Homo sapiens: one gene and its partners. The protein of the gene in region 5 interacts with the protein of the main gene of each other region in a biochemical or structural test. Each region holds a gene or a part of one and is shown on either strand. Other genes may lie near its edges. The genes, in order: BUD23, RPS21, SLX9, PNO1, RIOK1 and RRP12.

Region 1 (2,715 bases), on a different chromosome or scaffold from region 5:
GTGCAGAGGAGTGCTGGGGTGTGGGTCACCAGGGTCCAGGCAGGCGGAGGGGGTGCGGGTGGGGGAGCTGAGGGCTTGTCTCCCTGTGGGGCTTTCTCCACCCAACCCTCACTTTGCACTTTCTCCTTTCAGATTCTACCTCTGCTTGTTTTCTGGGCCTTCGACCTTTATACCAGAGGTGAGGGACACTGGGTTTGCAGGCAGGCCTGTGTCTTTTGACTTCCAGGCAGTGGGGCTCAGCCTGCAGAGCCTGCTGGGAGAACACTGGTGGGGAAGCAGGGCCCAGCCCCAGAGTGCAGACCCTGGAGTGCTCACATCCTCTGGAATCTGGAGGCAGAGACCTCTGCTCTGCAGGTCCCAGAAAGGCGTGTCAGTTCCTTCTCGTGGGACTGGACCTCGTCCCTGTCGGAAGGGTCAGGCCTGGGTGCCTGGGCTTCTGGAGTGGGGCAGATGGTTTGAGAACTCTCCAGGGTGACCTGAGTGCACTTTGGTTCCTGCAGGGGCTGAGTGAAAATCAGGATGAAGTTGAACCCAGGGAGTCTGTGTTCACCAATGAGAGGTAAAGCAACTGCTGAAGCCTGCCCCGGCTGCAGCGGGGGCTGCCACATTTGTTAGACATGGACTTTCTCTCTGCCCTCACCCAAGCCTCTCAGGTCACATGCAGCAGGGACACCAAGGTGACGGTAGAAACATCAGGTCCCATTTGGACTGTGCCTGTTTGGGGCTAGGGGTTTGGGGTCCTGGATGTCTGGGTGCAGCCATGCAGCCTGGACTCCCTTTGTGAGCCCACACATGCCCCTTCCCCTTGCCACGCCTGGCAGGCTGTCTCCTTCTTTTCTGATGCTGCCCTCCACCTGCATCTGGGACCCTCTCCCTTGGGTGCTGTGGCTCTCCCTTCCTTCCTGCATCCTCATCTTGACTCTCCTGGGTCACTGCTGTCGGCACACAGACATGCTGCACAATTTCTCCTTTTCTAGAAAAGTTCCTTCCTTAACCCCATAACAACAACTAACCACCCCGTTGTTGCTTCCCTTCATAGCAGAACTCAGACCTGCCTCTTCTTCCCCTCCCACCATTCTCTCAATCCACTTCTCAGGCTGACAATTCTGTCTCATCACAAATTGTTCTTGTCAACTCCACCACCAATTTCCATCAAGCCACATCTGGTCACTTGTGACTTTTTTTCATGTCCTTAATGTGCCTGCTCGGTAGGGTCAAAGACAGCAGTGCGCTCCCTCCTTGACGCTTCCTTCACTTGGCCTTCCACCCACCATCGTGGTTTCCTCAGCCTTCCTGGCTGCTCCTCACTCCACTGCTGCTTCCTCTTCGAGTGCTGGGCCCAGCCTGGATTGGATCCCTTCTCTACCTGTGGTGCTGTAAATGCCAGCCGGAAGGTCCTAATTCCCAAATGTGTATCTTCAGTCTCTTGCCACCTGGGGTTTCCCAATGCCCCCTCAGTGTCTATACCTGGAGTTTCCATGGGTAGTCTCTCTCTGTTACCCAGGCTAGAGTGCAGTGGTGGAATCTTAGCTCACTGCAGCCTCGAACTCCTGGGCTCAAATGATCCTCCTGCCTCAGCCTCCCAAGTAGCTGAGACTACAGGTGCATGCCACCATGCCTGGTTAATTTTTAAAGTTTTTGGTAGAGATGAGGTCTTGCCATGTTGTTCAGGCTGATCTTGAACTCCTGGCCTCAAGCAATCCCCCTGTCTCGGCCTCCCAAAGTTCTGGGATGACTGATGTGAGCCACCATGCCTGGCCATCCTCCATTCTTTTTTTTTTTTGAGATGGAGTCTCACTCTTTCCCCCCAGGCTGGAGTGCGGTGGCTTGATCTCGGCTCACTGCAACCTCTGCCTCCCAGGTTCCAGCGATTCTCTTGCGTCAGCCTCCCGAGTAGCTGGGATTGCAGGCGCCCGCCCAACTAATTTTTTGTGTTTTTAGTAGAGACAGGGTTTCACCATGTTGGCCAGGCTGTTCTCAAACTCCTGACCTCGTGATTCGCCCGCCTCGGCCTCCCAAAGTGCTGGGATTACAGGTGTGAGCCACTGCGCCTGGCCTCATCCTCCATTCTTTACCATTCTTGATCATTCCTGTCTTTCCCTACATTTCACATCTTGTCAGCCTGTCATTGAGCCCTGCTGTCCGTCCCTCAGTGTGTATCCCCGTGCTGACCCTCCCTGCTTCCAACGAGCCTAATCCAGCACTGCCCCTAGCCTGGATTGCTGAACAGCTGCCTGTGTTGTCTCCTTGCCTTTGCAGTCTTTGCCTCTTTCAGATTATTTTCTGCATAGCAGCAAGACTGGTCTTTTTCTTTTTTTCTAAAATGTAAGTTGTATCTTGTCATTGCTCTTTTAGTGCCTTCATTGCAGTTGTGCTCCCCGCTCATGTTGATTTTCCTTAACACCCTTCACTGCTCTAAGTCATACACATACCAGTTGACTTGGTTATTATTTGTATCTCCAGCTAGAGTGAAAACTTGGTGAGGACTGGTATTATATCCCTGACATTAAAAATAGTGTCTTGTTAGTAAAAAGTGCTCAGTATTTTTCTGAATGAATAATTGATTATAAGGTAGTGAAGAGGGAGGTTATATCTGAGGTCCAGTTGACATGAGGGAAAGGTCTTAAGACCTTTAAGACATTTAAGAGGAAAAATGAGCCCAAAATGCATGTGTTTGGAAGGCCCACAGCTGGGCACAGCCATGCATGTTCCTCA
Region 2 (3,349 bases), on a different chromosome or scaffold from region 5:
ATCTCATGTGCCCCATAAATGTACACACCCACTATGTACCCAAAAAATTAAACATAAAAAAACTTTTTTTTTTTGAGACGCAGTCTTGCTCTGTCGCCCAGGCTGGAGTGCAGTGGCGGGATCTCAGCTCACTACAAGCTCCGCCTCCCGGGTTCACGCCATTCTCCTGCCTCAGCCTTCCGAGTAGCTGGGACTACAGGCGCCTGCCACCACGCCCAGCTAATTTTTTGTATTTTTAGTAGAGATGGGGTTTCACCATGTTGGCCAGACGGGTCTCGAACTCCTGACCTCAGGTGATCCACCCACCTCCGCCCAAAGCGCTGGGATTACAGGCCTGAGCCACCGCACCTGGCCACTGAGTCTTAAGTTTTCTGAGGCTAGTTCTACATCCTAGGATCATGTCCCCCGCCCAGAGAAGACCCCAACATAGGCCGCGCTGCTCCCTCCGTCTACCGGTTTGGAGCTTCTCCTGGCAACAGGGTTCAGGCTACTAACAAGGCCTTCCTCAAGACCCCACCCATAACCAACGACCATACTTCGTGGGTCCATCTTTGTAACATCTTTACTTCCTTGGAGCAAATTCCCAGGAATGGGTTTTCGGGGTCCAAGGGTATGCACCTCTAGCACTACGACAAACGCGGCCAACACGCTTCAGGGAAACGGTGCCCCAGTTTGCATTCTGCTTCCCCTGCCCTGCCCTGGGGGTCTGACTGGTGAAACATGGGATGGCAGAGTGGTCGGGTGTTTCAGATTCCACGGTGGGCCGGGGTCTTTTCCTACCCTCGGGAGCCGTCTGAATTTCTCCTCTGCCGAGTTCCTGCGGGTGTCCTTCGCCCACCGGCCCGGGGGAGTGAGTAGCAGGCACCAGGTGAGCAGGCCTCCGCTCGCAGCGGCTACGTGCACGGGCAGGAGCACCGCCCCACGCCCCAGGTGGCCGCAGGGTGAGGGGACCGGAGGGCGGGAGGCGCACAATGGGGGGCACGCCCGTATCTCTAGCCCGGCCGGCAGCGGGCAGCGAGGCTCAGTCCTCGCCCCTTCTCCCAGCTGCTATTCGGGGCTCCCGAGGCGCTCAGAGGGGTCGACTGCGTCCGTGGGGCACAACCCAGGGGCCAGGCTAAGACGCCACACACGGCAACGACCCTCAACGACAACGACCCCCACGACGCCCCGCGCCCCAGGGCCAGCAGGCTGGGGTCCGAGAACCTCCTTGCCGGAAGCGGAAGTGCGTCACGGCGACGGCCGGCAAGCACGCACCGCGCAGACTCGCTGTGGTGGCGTGACCCGGAAGCGCTCGCCGAGGCCCCTCCTTGCCCGCCGATATCTCTGCCGGGTGACTAGCTGCTTCCTTTCTCTCTCGCGCGCGGTGTGGTGGCAGCAGGTGTGGCGCGCGGCGCGGGCTTCGGGCTCAGGGCTGGGGCTGGGGCGGGAGTGGGGGCTTGGACGCGGGGGACGGGGTGCGGGGTGCTGGGTGCGGCTGGGGCCGTGACCCTAGGGGCCGGTTTGCGCCGGGAGCCGGGGCACGGTTCCGGCCGTACTCACGGCGCCGCGCGGTGACTCCCCAGGCGCAGCCCAGCCTCGAAATGCAGAACGACGCCGGCGAGTTCGTGGACCTGTACGTGCCGCGGAAATGGTAAGCGCCCCCCACATGCCTCTCTTCCGTCCTTACCTAACCACCACGTCCCCTCGCCTGCCCTTGTTCCCCCACACCCCTCCCGTCCTTACCTCGTCACGTCCCTAACTTGTCCTGCCCCCGACGTTACTCTTTTCCATTCATATACCCCCAACCTCCCTCGTCCCCTCTTTCATTCTTACCGCCCAAGTCCCCTCTGCTCACTGCGCCCTTTCTCCACAGCTCCGCTAGCAATCGCATCATCGGTGCCAAGGACCACGCATCCATCCAGATGAACGTGGCCGAGGTGAGCTGGGAGCCCGGGAGGCGGGAAGGTTGTGATATATGTGCGGGAAAGGCAGGCTGTCCCATTGTGGAGGAGCCCCTGGGGTGAAGGTACAGGCAGAGGCTGGCTTTGAGGATTGGTGTTTCCCAAACCTGGGGGAGTGGTTTGTGACCCTTCTTCTCTTTCTAGGTTGACAAGGTCACAGGCAGGTTTAATGGCCAGTTTAAAACTTATGCTATCTGCGGGGCCATTCGTAGGATGGTGAGTGTTTCCCTGGGCTTTGCTCATCACTTCGGGACATCGTGGACTTTACCGTGCGCATTGGAGTGTGTGATGGTGCCTGAGTAGATCTGCTGGCAGAGTAGTTTGAGCCAGCTGGACTGGGCTGGCCGCCTGCCGCTTCTTGAGGGTGGAAGAGGGGTGCTCTGAGAAGACACTCAGGCAGCAGACTCTGCCTCTCACTAGGAGGTGCCCCCCCGACCCCGCTCCACCATAGTCAGGCTGCAGGCTGCCCCGGGAGAGGTGGCTCCCCTTCTGCGCCTGTCTCCATTCGCTCAGCGGGGGAGAGACGTGGGCTGGTGGCACAGCTGACCTTCTGCCATCTCAGGCAGCCGGAGTGGAAATATTCTTAGTGTGCTTTTTTTTTTTTCTTAAGGGTGAGTCAGATGATTCCATTCTCCGATTGGCCAAGGCCGATGGCATCGTCTCAAAGTAAGGTTGGGGGCTCACATTTGGGCAGAGTGAGTGGACTAGGACTGCTCCAGAGGCGTGGTCTTAACGTTGTCCTTTTCCCCTGGTTCTAGGAACTTTTGACTGGAGAGAATCACAGATGTGGAATATTTGTCATAAATAAATAATGAAAACCTACCTGTGCAGGTTCATTCTGTGTCTGTAGGCCCAGGGTTGAGGTTTTGCTGTCAGTGGGTGACGGGTGGGGTAGGGTACCCAGTTAGTTGAAAGGAGACAAGCTGTGAAACATATTGCAAAACTGAGGTTTAAAGGACAAATACATTATCCATTTAAAAACAGATATCTAAGACAAAATAACTCAAACATTCTGAGGTCTGATACTTGCTTATGCACACTGACATCCACAACTGCTACCGGTGCGGAAGCAACGCCAGGCCTGGTTCTGTATAGTCACAGCCGAGCTGAACACCTTAGCTCCGACACCTGGATGTGTTCTAGAGAATGACAGGCTGAGACTGTAGTTTGGTTTAACTACTGGCTTTGTTGCAATAATCCTCGAATACCACACAGTGGCAGCTTTTGGCATCATAAAAATGGGACATAACTGAAGGGAAGGCTTCACACATCACAAAGACCGGGTTGGTTAATGACTAAATCTCACTACATGAATACGCAATCTTAAATTACTGTGCTTATCAGCCATTTCTCGCATTCATGTGTAGGAAAAACCATGGAGACGTGTCCCTGGAGGGCAGGTTGTAAAC
Region 3 (3,657 bases), on a different chromosome or scaffold from region 5:
TGCAGAGCTGGGCTGCCTCCCTTTGGAGGACGGCCTTGGGAAGCTGCTGCTCTCGGCTCCTTGTTTGTAAAAATTACCTATTTTTGTTCCCCACCGTGAAATTTTTTATTGTGGAAGTAACCTGTGCTCGTGGAGTTTTTATGGTTCAGAAGTGCCTGCAGTGGTATGTGAAATCCTTCCAGGCCTTGCCCGCGGTGAAAACAGTGTCTGCGCATAGCGGCGTGGGTGTGGGCAGGGCCCCTGGTGTCCCCAGACCCTTTCAGGCCTGTGGCTCCCTCTTTTCTGAGGTCAGCCTTGCCACGTGCTCCCAGCTGCACGTCTCCGCAGGCTGAAAGCCACACTTCCCACTCAGGTTGTTTTGGAGTATCTCCTTATTTTTCGTGATGCTGGATATTTGCCAGTGTTTTTCTAAGATTGTTTCTCGTCAAAATTATTTTGTATTTTTCGGTTATCTTTTTAGTGTGATTCTGCTGACTTTGTGAAATTAATTTGGAATATTTTCTTTTTTATGTTATCTGCTTTATTTTTTCCTTGGAGGTTTTAAAGAAAATGTATGTTTTTCAGAGGTAGGACCTAGAAAACTTTGTCAGTTTCTTTTGTGATTATTAGTTTTATGGTTTCTATCCCTTTTTGGATATTTCTTAGGGAAATGATTCATTCCTCCATTTTCTTTTTCACAGTTCCTAGCATAGCTGTGAAAGTGGATTTGGACGGGCTACTGGACTGTGGCCATTTGGACCCTGATTTTCTAGGCTGTAATTCTTTGATGATGTGTAAATTTTATTCCATGGCACTTGGTCCTTTTTTTTTGTTTTTTCACAACTTGAGTCAATTTTGGCCACTCATAAAATGATCGAATTTGTCTGAGGATGGTGTCTCATGCCTGTAATCCCAGCACTTTGGAAGGTTGAGATGGAAGGATCACCTACGCCCAGGAGTTTCAGACTAGCCTGGGCAATATAGCGAGACCTTGTCTCTACAAAAAATGTAAAAATTAGTCAGATTAGGTGGTGTATGCCTCTGAGCCTCTAGTCCTAGCGACTTAGGAGGCTGAGGTAGGAAGATCGCTTCAACCCAGGAGTTTGAGGCTGCAGTGAACCGTAATTGCACTAGTGCACTCCAGCCTGGGTGACAGAGTGGGTCCTTGTCTCTAAATAATGTTAATGATCAAATTTAGTCAGATCTCAATCTTCATATGTTAGTTGCCTTCTTATTAAATATTCTGTTTTCTTTATCGTTCTTTATTTGTATCTCCACCTTCATTTCTGATTAAATTAAGAAGTTTTGTCTCTTCCATTTAATAATTAATGTATTTAATAACCAATTCTACTCTTTTGTCTTCAAAATTATTTGTTTTTATTTTGATCACTCCCGTTTTAGCTTTCTTTGGGTTTCAGTTACTCTGCTTATCTGTTTGTATATGTTTTGTTCAGGAGTGAAAGGCTGTAAGTTATCTCTAAATACAGCTTTAGCTACATTTCCCAAGTTACTTTTACTTTGTATTTTATTATGAAAAATTTTATTTAGGAAAGTGGGAAGAATTTTATAGGGAATACCCTGTACCCACCACACAGATTTTACAATCTTTATTACATAACCGTTCATCTAGCAGTTTCTGTCCATCTACCAACATGGGTTTTTAAAAATGCGTTTCAAAGTAAATGGCAGACATCAGTACACTCCACCCCAAATAATTCTGCTAGAGTTCATGGTTCTTTTTTTTTCTTTTTCTTTTGAAGATTGTATTTACATAAAATGAAATGCAAATCTAAAGTGTGCCATTCAATGATTGCTGACAAATGTTGTAGACACCTGTGCAGCTGAAATCCTGTTCAGGTTATGGACCATCACCACCATTCCCCGACAGTCACGCACCCCCCCAGTCAATTACCTCTCCCACTGGCCCCAGAGGTAACAACTGCTGTGTCACCCTTTGTCGTCCACAGTTGAGCTTTTCTTGCCTTAGACTCTGTATAAATGGAATCATGTAGGATGCACTCTTTCTGCATCTGGCTGCTTTTGCTCAGCGTAATGGTTTTGAAACCCATCCAGGCTGCATGTAGCAGCAGTCCATGCCTTTTGATTGCTGAGAAGTATTTCATTGTATGAATACACCATTTGTTACTCACTTTCCTGCTGATGGGCACCTGGGCTTTTTTCCATTTTTAGCTACTGTGAATAAGGCTGCTCTGAACATTCTTTACAAGTCTTTTTGTGGACATGTTTTCGTTTCTCTTGGGTAAGTGCTGAGGAATGGAATGCTGGGTCATAGGGTAGGTGTATGTTTAGTTTTATAAGCAGCTGCCAGACGCTTTTCTAGAGTGGTTGTACACTCACACTCCCACCAGAGCCTGTGAGAGTTCTCCTGGCCCTCAGCTTTGCCAACACATGGCCTGCCGTCTCCTCAGCCTCGGCCGTCTGGTAATCATGAAATGGTATCTCACGGTGGTACTCATTTCCGTTGCCACCAAAAGAGCATTTACATGTGCTTACTGTCCATTTGTGTTTCAGCGTCAGTGAAATTCATTTTTCATGAGGCTTTTTGTCTTTTTATTATTGAGCTCTAAGAGTTCTTTGTCCTAGAGTCCAGTCTTTGGTTGGATATGTGTTTTACAGATGTTTTTCCCAGACTGTGACTTGCCTGTTCATTTTCTTTCTTTTTTTTTTTTTTTGAGATAGAGTCTTGCTCTGTCGCCAGGCTGGAGTGCAGTGGTGCGATCTTGGCTCACTGCAAGCAACACCTCCTGGGTTCAAGCGATTCTTCTGCCTCAGCCTTCTGAGTAGCCGGGACTACAGGCACCCGCCACCGTGCCCGGCTAATTTTTTTGTATTTTTAGTAGAGATGGGGTTTCACCGTGTTAGCAGGATGGTCTCGATCTCTTGACCTCGTGATCCGCCCGCCTTGGCCTCCCAAAGTGCTCGGATTACAGGCGTGAGAACTTTTTTTTTTTTTTTAAATAAACGAGAGTTTAATTTTGAGAAGTTTAATTTATATTAGTTATTGTGTGTGTGTATATGTATGTGTGTGTGTCCTATTTAAGAAAACTTTGCCTAATCCCAAGTCATGAAGATATTATTCCTGTTTTCTTCTAAAAACTTTATAGTTTGAGCTTTCATATTGGTTTTTTTTTTCTATCTTGAATTGTTTGTCTATGTGGTGTTAGTGGTTAAGTTCCTTTTTTCCCCCTAATATGGATATTCAGCTGTTCCAGCACCATTTGTTATAAGTACTTTTCTTTCCTTATTGGATTGTTTTGTTGCCTTTGTGAAAAATCAGAAAGTCTCATAAGTGTGGATCTGTTTCTAGGCTGTCTTCTGTTCCATTGATCTATTTGTTGTACCTTAGCAAAAACCAGACTGTCTTGATTACCATAGCTTTAGGATTAATCTGGAAGTCAGATAACATAAGTCCTTTTTGTTGGTTCGTCTGTCTTGAGGTTGTTTTGGATATTCTAAGTCCTTGGCATTTCCATATAAATTATCATTAGCTTGTCTATTTCTTTAAAAACAACAACAAAAACCTAGTGGGGTTATGATTGGGATTTCATTGAATCTATAGATCAGTTCAGAATTACCATCTTAGCAAAGCAGATCTTCAAATTCATGAACATAGTATATCTCACCATTTAAATTTCATCATCAATGTTATTCAGTTTT
Region 4 (3,657 bases), on a different chromosome or scaffold from region 5:
CAAAAGGAAGAAGAGAGTAATAACAGTAGCAAAGTCCAAAAAGGTGGAAAGCAGATGGAGGAGATGGAACTGACTGTGCAGACCGAAGTCAACTGATGCCTAAATCAGCAGCAGGAATATCAAGAAGCAGAACTCTGGGAAAGAGACTCCAAGAGGCAGGGGACAGGGAACCCAGGATGATGGCTGTGCAGCCAGAATGCACGCAGAAAGCATGGGGGCGTTTTTGGAACAGAACATCTCCAGGAGAGATTTCTCAAATATTAGATGCATTCGAATACATCAAGAGGAGATACAGACAACGTATAGCTTCTTACTGAATTAGTACGACGAAAATGAAGAAAGGACATAGACACATAAGAGTTACTTCCTCAAGTGAAAACAATGCTGCAAAAGAAAGATAAGGCAGTCACAGTATTTCACCTGGCTCAGCTATAAGTACACTGAGCACTGATTTCTGTTTTCAGGTAATACTGAACACGAATCTAACAAAAACCACAAGGGGACCATCAGGAGGACAGAGAAGAATAAATCGGAGTGACAGAAAGGCTGAGTGTGTGCAGTGGAAGTAAGGGGGTGAAAGACAGCTAAATCTTCATCTTTGATGGTAGAAAGTCAATAGTGAATCTGAAAAATAAGAGGCTGTATATGAACAAAATATCTGGAAATACAGAGACAAATAATTTTTTAAGATAAGCTAAAAGAGTTGAAATTGGTTCCCCTGAAAAGGGTGAAATGGAGGTAGGCAGTAGAAATTTTTGGCTTTTTTTTTTTTTTTTTTTTTTGAGACGGAGTCTTGCTCTGTCCCCCAGGCTGGAGTGCAGTGGCGCAATCTCGGCTCACTGCAAGCTCCGCCTCTCGGATTCTCGCCATTCTCCTGCCTCAGCCTCCCAAGTAACTGGGACTACAGGTGCCCACCACCACGCCCGACTAATTTTTTTGTATTTTTAGTAGAGACGGGGTTTCACCGTGTTAGCCAGGATGGTCTCGATCTCCTGACATTGTGATCCGCCCGCCTCGGCCTCCCAAAGTGCTGGGATTACAGGTGTGAGCCATCACGCCCGGCCAATATTTGGCTTTTTAAAACTATGTGTATGTTTAACTTTGATTAAAATTATTTAAAACAGAGCATGACAGATGAGGAAATAAAGACAACAAGAACAGATGGGAGTAGTTTTGCTGCACAAAGAACCAAAGTAATGGGGCAATAGTTGGAAAGGAATGGAGGCTTCAAGACACAGAGGCAACATCATTTCCCATCTGCTGTATTAAACATACCTGGAACCAATTGTTTTTAGTTTTCTATCTGGCTCACATTATACTTACTGTATTTTGCCAGGTTATTGGCAACTCATCAAAAATAACTTTTATAGGTACACAACAGCCCATCTAACAGCTTTATTATAATTAATATAAACTGTTAAACGTGGATTTCCAACTAGCCTGTCTACAGCAAAAGCAAGAGATAGTACATCTCTTAATTTCAAGTAGTCTGTAATTCAGTTTGTAAGAAAACACAAAAGATATAAGTAATTCAGTAGCAACATTATTCTCATAGCCACAAACTGAAAACAACCCAAAAGTCCATCTACTGTGACTGGATAAACAAGATGTAATACAGCTGACTTTTGAATAATAGGTTTGAACTGCACAGGTCCAGTTACACACAAATTTTTTTCAACACATATACTGGAAGATATTTTGGAGATGTGAAAAAACCCAGAGAGGAGCTAAGTATCGTAGAAATGTCAAAAAAATTAAGAAAAAGCTACGTCATGAATGCATAAACTGTATGTAGGTACTAGTCTATCTTATTTACTACCGTAAAATATACACAAATCTATTATAAAAAGTTAAAATTAAAACTTACGCACACAAACACAAGCCATATATGATGCCATTTGTAGTCAAGAGAAATGGAAACAAATGCAAAGATGCAGTATTAAATCATAACTCCATAAAATTAACTGTAGTGCATACTGTACGACAACTTCACAGCCACCACCTATTGCTCTTGTGGTGAGCTCAGGTGTTGCAAGTATCCACTTAGAATGCCATGTGATGCTGATCACATGTGATGCTGATTATCTCCCATAAGCAGTTTTGACTCTCCAATAAACTGTCTATCACAGTAGAAAGTGATTTCTCGCAGTTCTTGCCTATTTTTAATCTTAGTGCAATATTGTAAGCTTTGGGACCATAGGACCCACCCAACGTGGGTCCCACATAAAGTGCCACTAGTGATGTTGGGAGTGCTCCAAAGCAGCACAGAAAAGTCATGACAGTACAAGAAAAAGCTGAACTGGCCAGGCGCAGTGGCTCACACCTGTAATCCCAGCACTTTGGGAGCCCGAGGCGGGTGGACTGCGAGGTCACGAGATTGAGACCATCCTGCCTAACACGGTGAAACCCCATCTCTACTAAAAATACAAAAAAATTAGCTGGGCATGGTGGCAAATGCCTATAGTTGCAGCTACTCAGGAGGCTGAGGCAGGAGAATCCATTGAACCCGGGAGGTGGAGGTTGCAGTGAGCCGAGATTGCACCACTGCACTTCAGCCTTGGCGATAGAGGGAGACTCCATCTCAAAAAAAAAAAAAAAAAAAAAAAAAGAAAAAAGCTGAATTGCTTGATAGGTACTGTTGACTGAGGCCTGCAGTTGCAGTTGCCCACCACTTCAAGATAAATGACTATACCATAGGACCATTGTAAAAAAAAGAAAAGGAAATTCATGAAGCTGTCACTGCAGCTATAACAGCAGATATGAATACACCTGCAGTTTTGCCAAATACCCCTTTATCTTATAAAATAAAAATAAAGCCCCTAGGCGCCCAGGCAAGACAGAACAGACTGTGGCAATAAGATATCAAATTGTAAACAAGACCTAAGACCACCTGGGCAAGGGTTAAGTCATACACCCTACACTTAAAGAGTAAATGACATTCTAATTGCCACAGGATATTTTTTTTTCTCTAGCAGCTTAACAAGCACTGGCCTTGTGATAAACAATATTAAAACAATTACAGCTCACCAACAGCTAGATACAGATTGACCCCAGCTTCCCTCTTCCCACACTCTGTTCCACAAACAGTAACTACAGCTTTGATTGGACAAGAGACTGATCCCAGTAACATCTCCTGATAAGAGATCACTGACCATGGACTGGTACTACCAGCTTCCAGAGGCAGTGCATTCAGTTGTCATGTCCCTGTCCCTATTTCATCTTGTAACATACAGGATCTAATTGTCAGGTATTTTAAATGTTAAGTCTCCACCCCAAAGCGACCAGGGGTTGTACATTTACTCGGTATACAAGCATTAGGACCCCTCTTATATTCAGAGCTCCTCCTATAACCTGTTAAATAAGTATACTTGGCCAACGCATTCAGCATAAATTCCTGTCTCATCCTTTCCTCCTTCAGAGTGCCTGCTTTTGGTCTCTGCTGAAGGCTATACTTTCCAGCCTGTCAGAATGGCCACCCTGCAGACTGCAACCCTTTCTAAGAAATAAAGTTTCCTCTCCAAATTTATAGATCTTGTGATTCTTTTCTTGACAATCTCAAATTGGAAATGCAGCTTTTATGTGGGTGCAGGATTGTTCTAAGAAAGACACATCTATAGAGTCTAATATGATGGAGAAAAAAATTAAGTCATTATATGA
Region 5 (2,522 bases):
GGAAAGAGACAAAATATGTGTTTCTAGTAGACATATGAGAAAATATGCTAGCAGCTGAGTATGTCCCTCAGAAGTCTTGGGACCCACATTGTATAAGGTTTAAAGGATTAGACTAAGATGGAATAATAATAGTCACATAGCACTCAGTCAGCAGTGTCTCTATGTCTATGGCTAGGGATTAAAGAAATACAAGAGTCCCTTCTTATCCATGGGGGATATGTTCCAAGACTCCCAGTGGATGCTTAAGACTGTGGATAGTGCCAAACCCTATATATACTATGCTTCTACCTATACATACGTACCTATGATGAGGTTTAATTTATAAATTAGGCACAGTAAGAGATAATAACTAATAACAGAATGGTAACAATATACTATAGTAAAAGTTATTTGAATGTGGTCTCTCTCTCCAAATATCCCACAGTATCATACTCATGTGACAGTAGCTTCTTCATTGGCAGATGCAGCCTCTCTGGTAATTTTTCTATTTTTTAGTCCAAACCTATTCCTGAATCTGTGTAACTATTCCTTACAGTAAATGGCCTGGTGGCACTCATTTCAGGGGAACCCTTGCTGAAACCTTTGAAACCTTCGTATAGGCTCAGTGCTTTCTGGTGCAACATGGTGCCATCAACTGGAAGATGTTTTTGTTTACGTCTTTCACCCACAAATTTCATGCCTTTTCCATCTTAACTAAGCAGTTATCACATGCTATGGTCCTAAGTTTTGCAGTTTGGGGTGAGACAGCAAAACCAGCACAAACATCTTTTTCCTTCTCCACAATGTCACGGATAAAAGATTCTCACCAGCAACTTCAGCATATGATTCTTTTCCTTTTATTTATTTTTTTGAGACAGAATCTCACTCTGTCACCCAGGCTGGCGTGCAGTGGCATGATCAGCTCACTAGAACCTCAAACTTCTGGACTCAAGGGATCCTCTTGCCTTAGCCTCCCAAGTATTTGGGACTACAGGTGCTCATCACCAATGTTTTAATAGAGACGGGGTATCACTCTATTGCCCAGACTGGTCTGGAGTGATCCGCCCTCCTTGGCCTCCCAAAGTGCTAGGATTACAGGCATGAGTTCCTTGTTAAGTCAAGAATGGTCACCTTTCCACTTAAAGGAAGCATTTTATGGCTTCTCTAAAGCATACCTGAAATTCCAACATCACTACTCCTGTAATTTACGGTCATTATTAAGCAAAGTAAGGGTTACTTGCACACAAGCACCACAACATCACAGCAGCTGAACTGATAGCCAAGAAGGCTACTAAGTGACTAACGGGTGGGGAGTGTCGACAGTGTGAAGACGCTGGACCACGTGATGATTCACATTCCAGGCAGGATGGAGGAGGACAGCATGAATTTCATCACACTACTTAGGACGGTGAGCAATTTAAAACTTATAAATTGTTTACTTCTGGAATTTTCCATTTAATATTTGCAAACCAAGGCTGACTGCAGGGAACTGAAACAGTAGAAACTGAAAGCATGGATGGGGGGACTATTATATGGTCTTTCAGATTCCAGAAACATCAAGCTGGGCTATAAATCCCCCTGAAATGGCTCTTCAGTATTTACCCTGGGTCAACTCTAACATCACTTGTACTTCATGTGAAATGTACTGAATTTAGTGCGTGCTCTCTCTAGGCAATGCCCAAGGTGCTCTGATGAGCAGCCCAATCTCAAGATAATGTTACCACCAAAAGTCAAGTTCACACTTAGGTATTAAAACTGTAATTAGAGGTACTTATCAATAATGTTTTCAGCCATCATAATCTAGCTAGATCCTTGAGCAAAGAGAAATAAGAGCGGCTGTGCTCCCACACTAAAGAAAAGGGGAAGGTATTTCATTGCTTACTTTTTTATCAATGTCAGGGTCCGTGGTGTGTTTCTTGGGGCGGGCATGGTCTCCCTGCTCTTCAGAGTCTGTGTCAGAGCACTCAGAGCTTCCAATATCTTCTGAATCAGAACAAGTCCTTTCCTCCACTTGATTTTCTAGGAGTGCAGGGACCTTGAAATTATTAAAGAACCATGTTATTCTAAACAACACACAAACCAAGTTATGTGTTGTTGTTAAATGTGTTAATGCCAGAATTCAGATTTTAGGCTCGCAAATATATGTTAAAAACTAACATCCTGTACTGAAACATCAAAACACCAGAATGAACATCAGGAGGGAAACATGAAAGTAGCCACTCCAAGTAAGGCTCCAGAACATACTCAAATGAAGGAACCAGGGCTTTACTGCGTGACCTAGATCAACAACAGAGCTGTTCTCCTTCTTTCAGCTAATCAGGAGCATTTAGTTGGGATTGGGAAAGAGGCAAAATATACATAGAGGTAGAAAATGAAGATTTATATGGATAACTTCACAGCTGTTTTCCTGTGAACCACATTTCTAGCAATAAACTAATCCAATTGGGAGGGAAAACAATATGTGAAGAAGAGAAATTTTCATTACTTCCTGAAATTCAGCAGTTGTCTAATACAGCGCTTCCTAGCAGTTTTTAAGAGTGAGG
Region 6 (3,657 bases), on a different chromosome or scaffold from region 5:
GTAGGACTACAGGCATGTGCCACCACACCTGGCTCACTTTTTAAAAATTTCTTGTATTTTTAGTGCAGATGGGGTTTCACCATGTTGGCCAGGCTGGTCTCAAACACCTGACCTCAGAAAATCTACCTGCCTCGGCCTCCCAAAGTGCTGGGAGTACAGGCATGAGCCACCATGGCCAGCCTGTCACACTACTTTTTAATGACAGAGTTATTGTGATAGAAATCATACGTACCGTGGGCTGGGCACAGTGGCTCACACCTGTAATCCTAGCACTCGGGGAGGCCGAGGTGGGTGGATCACCTGAAGTCAGGAGCTTGAGACCAGCCTGGCCAACATGATGAAACCCCATCTCTACTAAAAGTACAAAAATTAGCCAGGCATGGTGGTAGGTGCCTATAATCCCACCTACTCGGGAGGCTGAGGCAGGAGAACGCTTGGACTCTGGGGGGCGGAGGTTGCAGTGAGCCAAGATCGCACCACTTCACTCCAGCCTGGGCAACACAGCGAGACTCTGTCTCAAAAAAAAAAAAAAAAGAAAAGAAAGAAATTGTATGGCCTGCCGAGCTTAAAGTACTGGTCCTTTTGCACAAAAAGTTGGCTGACTCCTGGTCTAGGGCAGTGGTTCTCAACAAGGAGGGTGATTTTGCTGCCTGTAGGACATTCAGCAATGCCTGGAGACATTTTTGGTTGTTACCGTTGGGGGATGGGTGCTCTGGCATCTAGTGGGTAGAGGCCAGGATGCTGCTAAGCACCCTGCAATGCACAGGACGACCTCACACAACAAAGAGTACTAGGCCCAAAATGTCCACATTGTCAAGATTGAGAAACCCTGCTCTAGGGCAGTTTCCTGATTTCACACATGATCTTGTAGAATATACAGGAAGTGCTTAAAGAAGAAAGTAAGGCCAAGCGCAGTGGCTCGTGCCTGTAATCTCAGCACTTTGGGAGGCTGAAGCGGGCAGATCATGAGGTCAGGAGTTCGAGACCAGCCTAAACAACATGGAGAAACCCCGTCTCTACTAAAAATACAAAAATTAGCTGGGCATGGTGGCACGCACCTGTAATCCCAGCTACTTGGGAGGCTGAGGCAGGACAATCGTTTGCACCCAGGAAGCAGAGGTTGCAGTGAGCCGAGATGACACCACTGCACTCCAGCCTGGGAGACAGAGCGAGACTTCATCTCAAAAAAAAAAAAAAAAAAAAGAAAGTAAAAGTCATTCAGTCTTCCCACCCAGAAATTGTTACTACTCAAGTTTTTAATGTATTTTCCTTTGCTTTGTTTGGGTCGGTTTGTTTGTTTGTTTGTTTGTTTTGAGACAGAGTCTTGCTCTGTTGCCCAAGCTGGAGTGCAGTGGTGCGATCTTGGCTCACTGCAACCTCCACCTCCCAGGTTTTCAAGCAATTCTGCCTCAGCCTCCTGAGTAGCTTCGTCTACAGGCGTGTACCATCACCCCTCGCTAATTTTTTTATTTTTAGTAGAGACAAGTTTTCGCCATGTTGGCCAGGCAGGTCTCGGACTCCTGACCTCAAGTGATCCACCCGCCTTGGCCTCCCAAAGTGCTGGGATTACAGGTGTGAGCCACCATGTCTGGCTGCATTTTTTTCTGTGTAAAAATAGTATTGTATTTCTACTCTGTTGGAATTAATGTGCACATATTAGTAACTTAAAGTTTTTCCTGATATTAAAAAGGAAAAATTTGTTCTATTTTCAATAGAAATATATGCCCATCAAAGAAAATACAGATGAACCCCCAAAATGAGGGTCATTACCATCATTAATGTTACCTATAAACCCTGGCATTATTCTTAAGGCTGATGTTATGTATTCCCTTTGTCCTGGTAATACTACACGCAGGTATCTGTCCTGAGAAGATAGACAAGTGCGTACTGATTTATGTTCCTAGCAAAGACGTGCCTGACAGTATTGGCTTATACTGGCAAAAACTGTAACACATCTAGTATCTTTCTCATTAGGGTTCCAGTTAAATTAGTTATGGTAAAGCCCTACTTTTGGCCAGATGCAGCAGCTTACGCCTGTAATCCCAACACTCTGAGAGTCTGAGGCAGAAGGATTGTGTGAGGCCAAGAGTTCAAGAACAGCCTGGGCAACATAGCAAGACCCTGTCTCTATAAAAATTTTTTTTTTTTTTTTTTAGTTAGCCAGGTGTGGTAGGCTCACCTGTAGTTCCAGCTACTTGGGAGACTGAGGAAAGAGGATTTCTTGAGCCCAGAAGTTCAAGGCCAGCCTGGGCAACAGAGTGAGACCTCCGTCTCTACAAAAATATTTTTTAAGTCCCACTTTGGGATATGATGTAGGCATTATAAAGAAAGAAAGAAACCACTAGGTAGGGACAGACAAGTTTAGCAGATGGTGAGTCGAACAGACACGGTTTATATCCCAACTCCGCCGCTCCACAGTTCGTGGCTTGGGGCAGGTTTTGTTTAATTTCCCAGGGTCTGCTCCTCATCTTAAAATGGGCAAGTTTTGTGAGGATTAAATGAAAAAGTCATGTGAAGTGCTCATTACAGACTACCACATAGTACTTGCTCAGTAAATGTTACCAGCTTTATTGTCAAGTAAACAAGGTTACAGAATGCTATATATATAGTATATTCCTCCCTATGGTTTTTTTTTTTTTTTTTTGAGACAGAGTCTCGCTCCGTCACCCAGGCTGTTGTGCAATAGCACGATCTCGGCTCACTGCAAGCTCCACCTCCCGGGTTCACTCCATTCTCCTGCCTCAGCCTCCCGAGTAGCTGGGACTACAGGTGCCTGCCACCACTCCCGGCTAATTTTTTGTATTTTTAGTAGAGACGGGGTTTCACCATGTTAGCCAGGATGGTCTCAATCTCCTGACCTCATGATCTGCCCGCCTCAGCCTCCCAAAGTGCTGGGATTACAGGTGTGAGCCACTGCACCCAGCCCCTGTTTATGTTTTACAAAGTGGGCATGTGGCTGGGTGCAGTGTTGCACACCTGTAATCCCAGCACTTTGGGAGGCCGAGGCACATGGATCGCTCAAACTTAGGAATTCGAGACCAGTCTGGGCAACATGGTGAAACCCTACGTCTACAAAAAGTTAGGTGGGTGTGGTGGCATGCACGCCTGTAGTCTGCTTCTTGGGAGGCTGAGGTAGGAGGATCGCGTGAGCCTGGGAGGTCAAGGCTGCAGTGAGCCCAGATTGCGCCACTGTATTCCAGCCTAGGCCACAAAGTGAGACCCTGTCTCAAACAAAACAAACAAACAAAAAAAATTGGGCATGTGTTTAAAGAAGTATAAAAAAGTAACAAGAAACAGAGGCTATCTCTGGGGGAGTAAGAGTATGGAGAGACGTTTGCTTTCTGTTTATTATAGGTTCATTTGAGTATTTTAGAATGAACAAGTATGATTTAATTCATGGAGATGGGGGGAAGTCACCCATATTCCTGTCCTCATCATTGGGCTTTTGGTTTGGTTTGGTAAATAAGGCTGTTGGCCAGGAGGGTGCTGGGCTCACACTCTGTCCCTCTGTCACACTGCAGCCATGGACCTGGCTCAGGCAGGCAGCACAGTGGAATCTAAGATCTACGACACACTCCAGTGGCAGGTAAGGGTCAGCTGGGGGAGGGCGTGGGGAGAAGCACACAGGGGCACAGGTGGCTGCGTGTCACCTTCCTT

The links.
Region 1: the proteins of RIOK1 (region 5) and BUD23 are reported together in a solved structure, tested with the Homo sapiens proteins (one study listed by BioGRID).
Region 2: the proteins of RIOK1 (region 5) and RPS21 are reported together in a solved structure, tested with the Homo sapiens proteins (one study listed by BioGRID).
Region 3: the proteins of RIOK1 (region 5) and SLX9 are reported together in a solved structure, tested with the Homo sapiens proteins (one study listed by BioGRID).
Region 4: the proteins of RIOK1 (region 5) and PNO1 are reported together in a solved structure, tested with the Homo sapiens proteins (one study listed by BioGRID).
Region 6: the proteins of RIOK1 (region 5) and RRP12 are reported together in a solved structure, tested with the Homo sapiens proteins (one study listed by BioGRID).

The regions. Positions count from the first base shown.
Region 1 is NC_000007.14:73,693,492-73,696,206, forward strand, and holds part of BUD23 (18S rRNA (guanine-N(7))-methyltransferase), read left to right. Parts: intron 1-132; coding exon 133-178; intron 179-500; coding exon 501-559; intron 560-2,715.
Region 2 is NC_000020.11:62,385,759-62,389,107, forward strand, and holds RPS21 (small ribosomal subunit protein eS21), read left to right. Parts: upstream 1-1,344; 5' UTR 1,345-1,378; intron 1,379-1,562; 5' UTR 1,563-1,580; coding exon 1,581-1,630; intron 1,631-1,852; coding exon 1,853-1,916; intron 1,917-2,084; coding exon 2,085-2,156; intron 2,157-2,550; coding exon 2,551-2,606; intron 2,607-2,698; coding exon 2,699-2,708; 3' UTR 2,709-2,762; downstream 2,763-3,349. UniProt on the Homo sapiens protein: Component of the small ribosomal subunit. The ribosome is a large ribonucleoprotein complex responsible for the synthesis of proteins in the cell.
Region 3 is NC_000021.9:44,960,436-44,964,092, forward strand, and holds part of SLX9 (ribosome biogenesis protein SLX9 homolog), read left to right. Parts: intron 1-3,657. UniProt on the Homo sapiens protein: May be involved in ribosome biogenesis.
Region 4 is NC_000002.12:68,167,873-68,171,529, reverse strand, and holds part of PNO1 (RNA-binding protein PNO1), read right to left. Parts: intron 1-3,657. UniProt on the Homo sapiens protein: Part of the small subunit (SSU) processome, first precursor of the small eukaryotic ribosomal subunit.
Region 5 is NC_000006.12:7,413,730-7,416,251, reverse strand, and holds part of RIOK1 (serine/threonine-protein kinase RIO1), read right to left. Parts: intron 2,015-2,522; coding exon 1,862-2,014; intron 1-1,861. UniProt on the Homo sapiens protein: Involved in the final steps of cytoplasmic maturation of the 40S ribosomal subunit. Involved in processing of 18S-E pre-rRNA to the mature 18S rRNA. Required for the recycling of NOB1 and PNO1 from the late 40S precursor.
Region 6 is NC_000010.11:97,373,759-97,377,415, reverse strand, and holds part of RRP12 (RRP12-like protein), read left to right. Parts: intron 1-3,521; coding exon 3,522-3,586; intron 3,587-3,657.